Regions from separate parts of the Homo sapiens genome. Here region 1 is linked to region 2. The links come from fine-mapping of genetic effects on gene expression. A gene starts in region 2. The other region holds a variant in brackets. All regions are shown on one strand. Distances are from middle to middle. Region 1 has its middle 5.0 kb from the start of SNORA48B. Region 2 holds the start of MXRA5 (matrix remodeling associated 5).

Region 1 (5,374 bases), 190 kb after region 2:
GGGTTCAATAAACTAAGAATTACATGATCCTATTTGGGGTTAAAACATAGAAATTTTGGTTTCTTCCAATAATAACAACTTTGCACTAGTAGTTCACTATCTAGAGCAAATAAACTAGAGAAGCATGGTGACTATGAAATAAAAATCACAACTGAGTAAGACTTTTAGAAAGGAGACAGTATGTATTCACTGACAGCCACATATTTCAGCAAGATGCACCAGGTAGTTGTTCTTGAGAGAATTAATAACAGATGAATCTCAGGTTCAGAAAAGGCAAAAGTAAAAACAACAAAACTGAAAGCTACAGACAACTTGGAACAAGAATGTTCCAAAAAAAATCTGGCTTCAAGATGCTCAGGAACTAGATTCCTTCCTTTTATCTCTTCTACCACCCTAATACATGACTTTCATCTTCAAGTTTGCCTCATGTCTCAGTGTGAATGCTGAAGCTCCAGCCATTGTATCTACATCCCAGAAAGCAGATGAGGGAGCAGTGAGGAACAAAATGGCCTCTGCGCCAAGTGAATTAGCTCTTTCTCTGCAGTCTTCCTAAATGTCCCACGACATTTCTACTGCAATCCTATTGAACTTAGTTACTTGGCCCCAACTAGTTGAATGAGAGGCTAGCAACTATAGTTTGCTCGTTAAGTTTGGAACATTACCACCTCAAAACAAATTTGAATTCACTTGAGAAAGGACTTCAGGGCAGGCTTGTAATCCCAACACTTTGGGAGGCTGAAGCGGGAGGATCACTTGAGGCCAGGAGTTCAAGATCAGCCTGGGCAACATGGCAAAACCCTGTCTCTACAAAAACTACAAAAAAATTAGCTGGGTGTGGTGGCAGGTACCTGTAGACCCAGCTACTTGGGAGGCTGAGGCAGGAGAATCACTTGAGCCCAGGAGACGGAGCTTGCAGTGAGCCAAGATTGCGCCACTGCACTTCAGCCTGGGCGATGAGAGTGAAACTGTGTCTAAAAAAAAAAAGAGAGAGCGAGCGAGCGAGCGAGCGAGAGAATGGACTTCAGTTATCAAATGCCAGTTTCTGCTCCAAATGCCATGGAATAACCGACTTGATGAGAGCTTAGAGATGACAGCTTAGAGATTGGTCAAGGAAGATTTGTGAGCCACGAACACCAGCTTCTAGAAAAGCAGTGCACACTCCTCTGCAGGCTCACTCCCAAGCAAGCCAATTGTTCACTGTGGAGTTTGGGTCTCCTGTCCCTTGCTCCCTTCTCCTCACACATCCCCAGTCACCCTGGAGGTCAGAATCTAAAATGGGTCAGCAGGGCTGCTGTCTTTGGGAGGCTCCAGGGAAATCGTTTCTTGCTTTTTTCTGACTTCTAGAGGCTGCCTGCATTCCTTGGCTCATGGCTCCTTCCTCTGTCTTCAAAACCAGGAGTGTTGCTTCACTTCCCCCTTCTCTGTCTGTCTCTGCCTCTCTCTTCTCTATCTCTCCTTGTGCCTCTGTCTGTCTCAGCCTCTCTCTGTCTCTCTTTCTGCCTCTGCCTCTGTCTCCCTCTCTCTGCCTTTCTGTCTCCCATTCTCTGTCTCTCTTTCTCTCTGTCTCTCTTTCCCTGTGTCTCTTTGTCTCTTCCTGTCTCTCTGTCTCTGTCTCTCTCTGTCTTTGTGTTTTTCCAACTCTCGTTGTCTCTCTCTGTCTCTGTGTCTCTGTCTCTCTCTCTTTGTGTGTGTGTGTGTGTGTGTGTGTGTGTGTGTGTGTCTCTGTGTGTCCCTCTCTGTCTCTGTCTGTCTTTCCTTCTCTTTCTCTGTCTCTCTGTCTCTGTCTGTCTCTCTCTGCTTTCTTCATCGCATGTCTTCGACTCCTTGCTGCTGCCCTCTTCCAAGGAGCTTGGTGTTACACTGAGCTCATCTGAATAATCCAGAATAATCTCCCCTCTCAAGAGCCTTAATCTGGAAAGTCCTGTTTGCCATGTAATGTAAAAGATTCACAGGTTTCTGAGATCAGGACATGAACATCTAGGGACAGGGGAGACCCACGTTGCAGCCCATGGCAACCACTTTAGGATTCTCAATAAAATAATAGAGTCAGCCAGGCCCAGTGGCTCACACCTGTAGTCCCAGCTATTCAGGAGGTTGAAGTGGGAGGATTGCTTAAGCCCGGGAGTGAGCTACGACTGCACCACTGC[A/G]CTTCAGCCAGGGCGACAGAGCAAGACCCTGTCTCAAAATAAACACATTAATTAATTATATAGAACAGAATTTGTTTTTCTAAAAGGTATTTACTGTTTTGATGACTGTTATCTGAATGTTTCAGGTAATGGATTTTATTTATTTATTTATTTATTTATTTATTTATTTGTTTGTTTATAGAGCTGGGTTCTTGCTTTGTTGTCCAGGCTGGAGTGCAGTGGTGCAGTCATAGTTCATTGCAGCAGTGACTTCCTAGGCTCAAGTGATCCTCCCACCTCAGCATCCGGAAGAGCTGGGACAACCGGTGTGCACTACCACACCCTGCTTATTTTTCAAAACATTTTAGTAGAGATGAGGTCTGATTATGTTGCTCAGGCTGGTCTAGAACTCCTGTGCTCATGTGGTCCTTCCACCTCAACCTCCCAACGTGCTGGGATTACAAGTGTGAGCCACTGCACCTGGCCATGCTGATTTTAAAGCCTATTTAAATCTTAAAGCATTACATTGTCCTCCATTTGATGGCATAATAATATTTGTGACCATGTTCATATGACAGTGCTTAAACATGTTGAGTGTTCAGAGAAAGAACCACTGTTGCAGACTGACTGATGTTTAGAATGCCTTGTGGACAAAAATATTACAAAGAAGAAAGAAGTAGTTTTCTTTAGCCCTCAGAAGACTACTTGGTGAATAAACCAGTGACATTTCACTTTAAAGAAAAAATTAAGCAGGTAGGGTTTGCTTCAAAGTAAATGTGTGCTGAGCATAGGAGAATAAGAAGTGGAGAAACCTTGTATACATGGAAAGGGTAAAGTTAACTCTTGGAATGTGGCTAAAATTCAAGGTAAGGAACACAGCAAGTTGTCAGAGTCATAACATGAATAATTAAGGTAACACAGATAGAATTTTACAAATTCAGTTTGCAAAATAAATATCCAAAGAATGACTGAATAATTAGTAAGATCTATAGTTTAGCATTTAACAAAAAGGATTCACTTCGGATGCTGATCTGTGAGCCAATCTGTGTCTATTTCCATTCCTCTTTACAGCACAGCTGTCATATATTCGCTATAATATGATAGATATGCCAGGCATGGTGGCTCACACCTGGAATCCCAGCACTTTGGGAGGCTGAGGCGGGCGGATCACCAGAGATCAGGAGTTCAAGACCAGCCTGGCCAACATGGCGAAACCCCGTCTCTCCTAAAAATACAAAAAATAATATAAGCAGCCGCTTTTCCCTGGCACATGGGGTCTCCTCTCTTGGCTTTGGAGCCCCCTCCCTCTGTCTCTGCACAGGGGAGCTTCTTCCATCTTTCTTCTCCCTTCTTTCTTTCTATTAAACTCTCCGCTCCTTAAAGCCAAAAAAAAAAAAGATTTAAAAAATACACATACAACTACAAAAAATAGCCAGGTGTGGTGACGCACGCCTGTAATCCCAGCTAATCGGGAGGCTGAGGCAGGATAATTGCTTGAACTTGAGAGGTGGAGGTTGCAGTAAACTGAGATCGTGCCACTGCACTCCAGCCTCGGTGACAGAGTGAGACTCCATCTAAAAAAAAAAAAAGAAAGAAAAAAGAAAAAAAAGAATAATATGATAGAAAGATAGATAATAAAATAGTAGATTAACAGACGATACATGATAGGTAAGGTAAGTAGATAGATGATAGATAAAATGATAGGTTAATAGGTAATAGAATAATACAATAACAGATGATAGAGATGATATGTAGACAATACATAAAATGATTGATAGGTGACAGACATGATAGCTAGATAGATGACTGACAGAAAGATAATAGATGACTGCCTGACAGATAGATGATAAACAAATAGATGACAGGTAGATAGATATGATAGGAAGATGATAAATGATAGTCAATAGATAGATATGATAGATGATAACGATAGCTAGATGATAGATAGATGATAGATAAATGCATATGATAGATATGATAGAAAGATGATAGATAATATAGAGAGATGATAGATAGATAGATAGATAGATAGATAGATAGATAGATCAATAGATAGTACATACATACTTTCATTTCTATGGCTACTTTTTAAATAAATGCCTAATGTTTTATATGTTGACATATAAAAGCGTGTGTTCAGCCCAACTTCCATTGTGAAAAACAGCATGTGAAATCTAACACCACTCAAAGAATTTGGTGCATTTTCTTGGCTGTAGTGCTGGTCAAGTTTGGCCTCAACTGCCTAGAGTGAGCAGCAGAATCAGGGTAGGCGGCCGGAGCAGTGTAGAGCCCCATCACCCCACTCAACAATGACACAAACATGAAGTGAGGGCTGGACTCGGGAGATAAGAGGTTGGATACAGTGGACAGGTCACCAAGATTCAGAGTCTACCATGAAAATCAGACAGTGGGGCTTATAGTGGAATGGAGAGAGCAGGACCTAGGACCAGGGTGGTGACTCAGTGGGTCCACATGAATACTCATTGATGGTAGTTAGTAAAGAGGGGACATTTTTGTGGAGTCAAGATCCAAGCCGTGGGAACTCTGTCATCTGGTCCCAGAAACTGAGACCTAAAAAGGCTTTTATCTATGAAGAATTTTGACAAAGGCATACTTACTTACCTGAACAAGACAACAGTGTCAAAATATAGAAGATGAGGGGCAAAAAGAGAGAACAAGGCACTGGGTTTCCCCAATATCTTCAAGGGACATTACTAAGCTCTTAAGATGAAACACATCCCATAACCCGCACCATCACCAGGAGATGGGCACTATTCTCATCTTCATCTTAACAAATAAGACAATGGAAGTTCAGAGAGATTAGAGAATTTGGCCAGGTTTCCACAAGCAATAAGCAGAAACACCATTGCTTGTAAGAACCTGATCTATAATAGTGCAAAGGCAGTCTAACACTTATTTACAGTTCAAAGGATTGTAACAAGTAGATTTTTTTTTCTGTGTTACCCCCACCCCCCTTAATATTTTCATTAGCCAGCATTTAAATTATAAGCAGAGGTCGGGTGCAGTGGCTCACGCTTGTAATCTCAGCACTCTGGGAGGCCGTGGTGGGTGGATCACTTGAGGTCAGGAGTTCGAGACCAGCCTGGCCAACATGATGAAACCCCATCTCTACTAAAAATACAAACATTAGCCAGGTGTGGTGACGCATCCCTGTAGTCCCAGCTACTCGGGAGGCTGAGACAGGAGAATTGCTTGAACCTGGGAAGTGGAGGTTGCAGTGAACTGAG
Region 2 (5,374 bases):
TGTAGTGACGCTTAAACCATGGGAATTGAGAAAGATGAAACATGGTTTTTTTTCTAAACTTTTCACCATTCACTTTAATCATGACTATAGAATATAGTCTTGATTCTTGGCTTCGATACTATGATTTGGAAATCTATCTTGCACTCTGTAATTGCGGCTATGAAACAGAGAGAGACGAGAGAGAGAGAGAGAGAGAGAGAGAGAAGAAAGAGGTTTATATTTATGTATCCATAATTAAAAAATAATAAAATATTGTGTTTCTGCCTCCAACAAGACTGAGCCATTATATATTGCATATATTTGAATTTAAAACTTCCCAAGAAGTGTTTATTCGTATTCTTTCCTTTAATGATATTTTTCAAACCTTTAATTCTAGCTTCTTGAAGAGCTTAAAGAGGTATTTGCTAGAAGGATATTCATCCTGTTATTTCTGGGTTTATTTACTATCCTTATGTTTTTGTCTTGGAAAAGCCAGAGAGTTTTTTTGATGATATAGAGTTGCTGTTAATCGGGGAGGAAGTTTGGGGGAACCTCTGATCATTCAATAAACAGGAAGGGACTGCTTATGAAATATATTCAGGCAAACAGAAAAAAATGGAGTCACTAAAAAATGGAAAAGCTCGGGTAAAGCTAGATTGCATCAGCTACTTCATTTAGAATGGCGGTGATCATTTTCTTCTTGTCCTGGCAATGCCTATGTCATCTAACATTTTTGTCATCTCTTGAATGGCGTTCACTTAAAAATAGTGACACACATGGAAAGTAAATAGGGATACACAACAAACACGCGCCTGCCCATTCGCCCGGGTTCTGAACGAGCGCGAACTGCTGATTAAAATTCTAAAACCCAGGCCGGACTCGGTGGCTCACGTCTGTCATCCAACACTTTGGGAGGCCGAGGCGGGCGGATCACCTGAGGTCAGGAGTTCGAGACCAGCCTGACCAACATGGAAAAACCCCGTCTCTACTAAAAATACAAACAAACAAACAAACAAAACAAAATTAGCTGGGCGTGGTGGCGCATGCCTATAATCTCAGCTGCTCGGGAGGCTGAGGCAGGAGATTCGCTTGAATCCGGGAGGCAGAGGTTCCGGTGAACCGAGATCGAGCCATTGCACCCCAGCCTGGGCAACAAGAGCGAAACTCCGTCTCAAAAAATAAAAATAAAATTCTAAAATCCTTCCTATAAGAGAGGAACATCCCAAACCTGTAGCTTTTCCTGCCTTTAAGTGACCTAGAAAAGGTTATTCTCTTAAGCCCGGGGGCGCGTCTCCCTTCAGCTGCCCATAAAGAACTGATGGCGCACAGGTAGTTTTGCAAAAAAGCAAGTCCGGGCTCCGCCTCTGGGCGCTGGAACAAACCGGCTCCTGCAGCTCTGCAAAAGTCCTCGGAGTTTTCTCTCTCGCCAGAGCCCGGGCTTTCCCCGCCCCTGCCTGCGCGCCTGACCTCGGCGCTGGGCTGGTTCCAAGGGCAGCCGCGCCAGTCCCCAGCGTCCTGTGCCTGCGGGCGGACTTGGCCCGGGCGTTCCATAGGACTCTTCAGCCCCAACTCCCTGTCCGGCCTCCCACCCCGGCACCAACCTCCCGGGAGACCCAGGAAACTCGCCCCCAGACAACCCTAATCCCGGGGACTCGGGGTCGGGTCTCTCCGCCGCGGAGAAAGCGGCCTGGCGCCAGCTAGGCCGCCAGAGACGGTCTGCGAACCCCGCCGGGAAGCAGGGGTGGGGGCGTGAGGCCGTCTGCTTTCGTCTTGGCCCTGGGCAGACAACCTGGAGTGGCCGGGCGGGCAGCCCTGAGCCCCTGGCCGGCTTCCAGAGTCCGCTGGGTCGCGTCGAGCTGGCTGCGGGATGAATTACGAGCTTTCCCGGAACGCGGCTGGGGTGGCCCTGCGAGTCCCCGCCGCCCGGGACTCGGACACCAAACCCCTTTTGTCTGCGTGATGACTGTCCCGGTTTTTTTGCATGGCTCGGATCACTCTAGGCGTTGGGCTGTCCCCTTTCCAGGGAAAGCCTGGGTAAGAGTAGGAGGAAAGAGGCGGGGAAGGAGAGGGGGAAGAGAGGAGGGAGAGGAGACTTGAAGTAGCCACAGCCTGAGCAACTTGGAAAGAGGCTCCTCAAGCGTCCTTTCCCCCACCGATTGCAAGAGCAGAGTGGGCTTCACTTAGGAATTCCGTTGGCAGCTTCCTAGAAACGCGGGATGGCGGGGTTGAAGGTCTCCAGAGAGAGCCAGGGATGGGGAGCGCTTTGGGGAGAGGGAGGAAAGGAGGCATGGGATGTCTGGGCTTAATTAGACCTATTCAGTGCATCCTCCTTCAAGATCCGGCTCTCCTCCCTATCTGATCCTTAGCTACTTAAAATTGCAGGAATTCAGGTATCCTGATTTCTTAGCAACTTCAAACAGTGCTGGGGAACGGTGCAATCTGCCTGCATGCAGGCCCTTTACCCCCAGTGTTTCCCTTGGGTGTCTCAAATCCCTTCACCCCCTGCAGGCAGACACGGCAGCCCTGGGGCGCCCTGGCCACCCTGGGTCCTCACCTGTCCTTGGGAAGCCGCCGCACACGGGAGCGGTGCGCCGGGAGCATCCACCGAGCCGGGGCGCGCGAGTCACGGCCGGGAGTTTGCCGGGGCCATGCCCTTCCCGGGGCCGGGGGTGAGGCAGCTCGGCTTCCCAGCGCGGCACAGCAAGCCGGCGCCCTTTTATTCCCGGCGCTGCGAGGCTTCCCCAAGTCCACGCCTCGGCACACCCCCACCCTGCCCCACCCCGGGGAGACGGGGCGCGGGCCCGAGCCAAGGGACCCTGGCCGCGCCGCTCTGCGCTCAGCCTTCCTCTCGCGTCTTCATTGCGCCTGGGCCCGGGTGGGCATGCCTCGCCCACTCCAGCTGCAAGAACCGCAGGCGGCTCGGGGAAGGAGGGCTCTTTGTCAGAGAGAAGTCCAGGACCCCAGGAGGGAAGGGCGAGATGCAGGGAGCGCGGTGGGAGCCGCAGTAGAGTCCGCGCTTGGAGAGCGCCTAAGCAGCGCTGGGAACGTTTCCGTTCCTTTCAGGAGAGAGAGAAGGAGCAGGGTTTGCGCTTCTCCGGGCCAGACGGTGTTTTCTCGGCAGCTCTTCCCAGACCGTGTGCAAGCAGGAGCGGGCTGGCCCCGCCGGCATCCCACTAGCTGCAGGCAGGGCTGCAACGTGAGAGCCGCCGCCACGCCCTCCCGCCTCTCCAGGACTCCCCGGCGCCCGCCTCCCTCCCCTTGCCAGAGTCTTCCTGCCAGAAAGGTGGAACGGCTCCCCTCCGGCTTGGGGAGCATTCGAGGGGCAAGGCGAGGGTTGGGACGTTCGGAGAGTCTGATGGTATTGTCTGGGGAGGGGGCGGTGGGAGGGTGGGAGCGACCTGGCGACAAGGCAAAAAGTAGAGGGTGCAGAGGGTAGGTCCCTATTCCAGGAGGCAGAGGAAGAGGAGGCGGCGGCTGCCTGGCTTCCTGGATAAGTCAGACCTGGAATGGTGGGGAGAGGTCAGGCGAGTATCTTCAGTCAGCAGAGCCAACCTGGGGTAAAAACATGGAGCTCAGACAGGTGTGTAGGGCCCGGAAAGGCACCATTGCACCAGCTTGTTGTAGGGTGCACCAGCGACTGCTTTTCGCTATACCTCTGGTTAGCCGTATTCCTCTCCCTGAACCAGCATTTTGACATGTCCTTAGGGTCAGTGTTTGCCTGTTGTGTTCTTTGATCTACAAAAGACATCTGTGAGTATAAAAAAAATTTTTTTTACAAGCCCAGTGGTACCATGTACTTGTACAACGAATCCTGTCTGCTGAGATGCCCCTGAAGCAGGCTGATGGCGTGCGGCATTTATGTATGTGTGTATGTATGTATATATGTATCTATGTATTTGAGACAGAGTCTCGCTCTGTTGCCCAGGCTGGAGTGCCAGTGGTGCGATCTCGGCTTACTGTAACCTCTGCCTCCGAGGCGCAAGCGATTCTCCACCTCCGTCCCCCATGCAGCTGGTACTAGAGGCTTGCGCCACCACGCTGGGCTAATTTTTTTTTTTTGGTGCGGACAGGGTCTCACTATGTTGCTCAGGCTGGACTCGAATTCCTAGCCTCAAGTGATCCATCCACCTCGGACTCCCAAAGTGCTGGGATTACAGGCGTGAGCCACCCAGCCCAGCAGGCATGCAGCTTTTAAAAGGCAATGCATGGAGAAAGTATAATTGAGAAGTGCCTGCTCTTTAGATTCAGAAGTCCTGCCCTACGTCCAGCACTCTGTCAGGGGGCTTTCAGGAGGAAGGAAGGACTAAGCCTAAGAAACAAGTTGCTTCCCCTGCATGAAGCGTGGTTCATCTTAGCTCCTCCTAAGAAACACAGCGTCTAGGAATTCCTCACCACCTGCCTCCTGCGCCTAGGGTGGCTTCCACAGAGTTGATAGTCAGGAAATACTGGTTCATAAATGGGAATTCATTCCTTCTCTAGCTTTAGTTTTCAGTGTGTGTTGACATAGTTCCAGGGATTAGTCAAATAATGCCCTTAGGTAGCCTCTTTCTGGGCATGCCCCAAACCCATTGATTAAATCACGAAACAAAACAAAACAAAAAACAACTGTCTCTTGAACATCTCTTTACCCTTGTTAATGATGTTGCCACCCATCTCGTCAGCTAAACTAGAAACTCAAGCCATCCTTGCCTTCTGCCTCTCCTTCATGTCTTCCTCATAGTCAACTGGTTGCCAAGTTTAGATCCTGATGCCTAAGAATCTCTTGGCCCAACGTGTTCTTCTCTCCACCTCTCTCACTGCGGTTGCATGGATATGTCTTAGATTTTGACAACTTCTTCCTCCACCAACTCCTTCTCATTCATCCCTTCCAGCCCATCACTGAGACTTAGAGGGATGCCATCATCCTCAAACCCAAGGCTGAAGTTTTCCATGGGTGGCCTGTGCCATGCCCTGTGCTTCCCAGCCTGTCCCTGGGATCTTCCTTTTGGTGATAGATCTGGCTTGTCAAGAACAAGTAGCACATCCCTGATTTTTGTTGTTGTTGGTTCACGCCACTGTTTTGACAAAGTTCTCCTCAATCTCCATTGTATAGTATTTCCTTACCTCCATGCCCATTGCTAAAGTGGGCTTTTTTCCTGCATTGTGGACAATCACTCACCTTCTTTTTATGCCGTCATAGCTTCTTGACACCTGGAGTATAGCACAGAGCTTAGCATACACTAAGCGTTCAATTGAATGAATGAATGAATGAATGTGCGCATGACTGACGTTGAATTCTATTAAGAAATGTCTAGATTTGGCCAGGCGCAGTGGCTCACGCCTGTAATCCCAGCACTTTGGGAGGCCAAGGCGGGAGGATTGCTTGAGTCCAGGAGTTTGAGACCAGCCTAGGCAA

The links. PIP is the estimated chance that this variant, and not a neighbour inherited with it, causes the effect. A credible set is the group of variants that fine-mapping cannot tell apart.
Region 1: its variant is the best candidate, but not a certain one, in a credible set for the expression of MXRA5 in nasal epithelium (TOPMed, PIP 0.54).

The regions. Positions count from the first base shown.
Region 1 is chrX:3,534,533-3,539,906 of GRCh38, forward strand. No RefSeq gene overlaps it. Among named protein-coding and RNA genes, the nearest start is that of SNORA48B, 5.0 kb to the left of the region's middle. The variant A/G (reference allele first, on the strand shown) is at 2,148.
Region 2 is chrX:3,343,982-3,349,355 of GRCh38, forward strand. It overlaps MXRA5 (matrix remodeling associated 5), which reads right to left and starts at 2,671. Exons shown (of 7, transcript NM_015419.4): 1 at 2,534-2,671.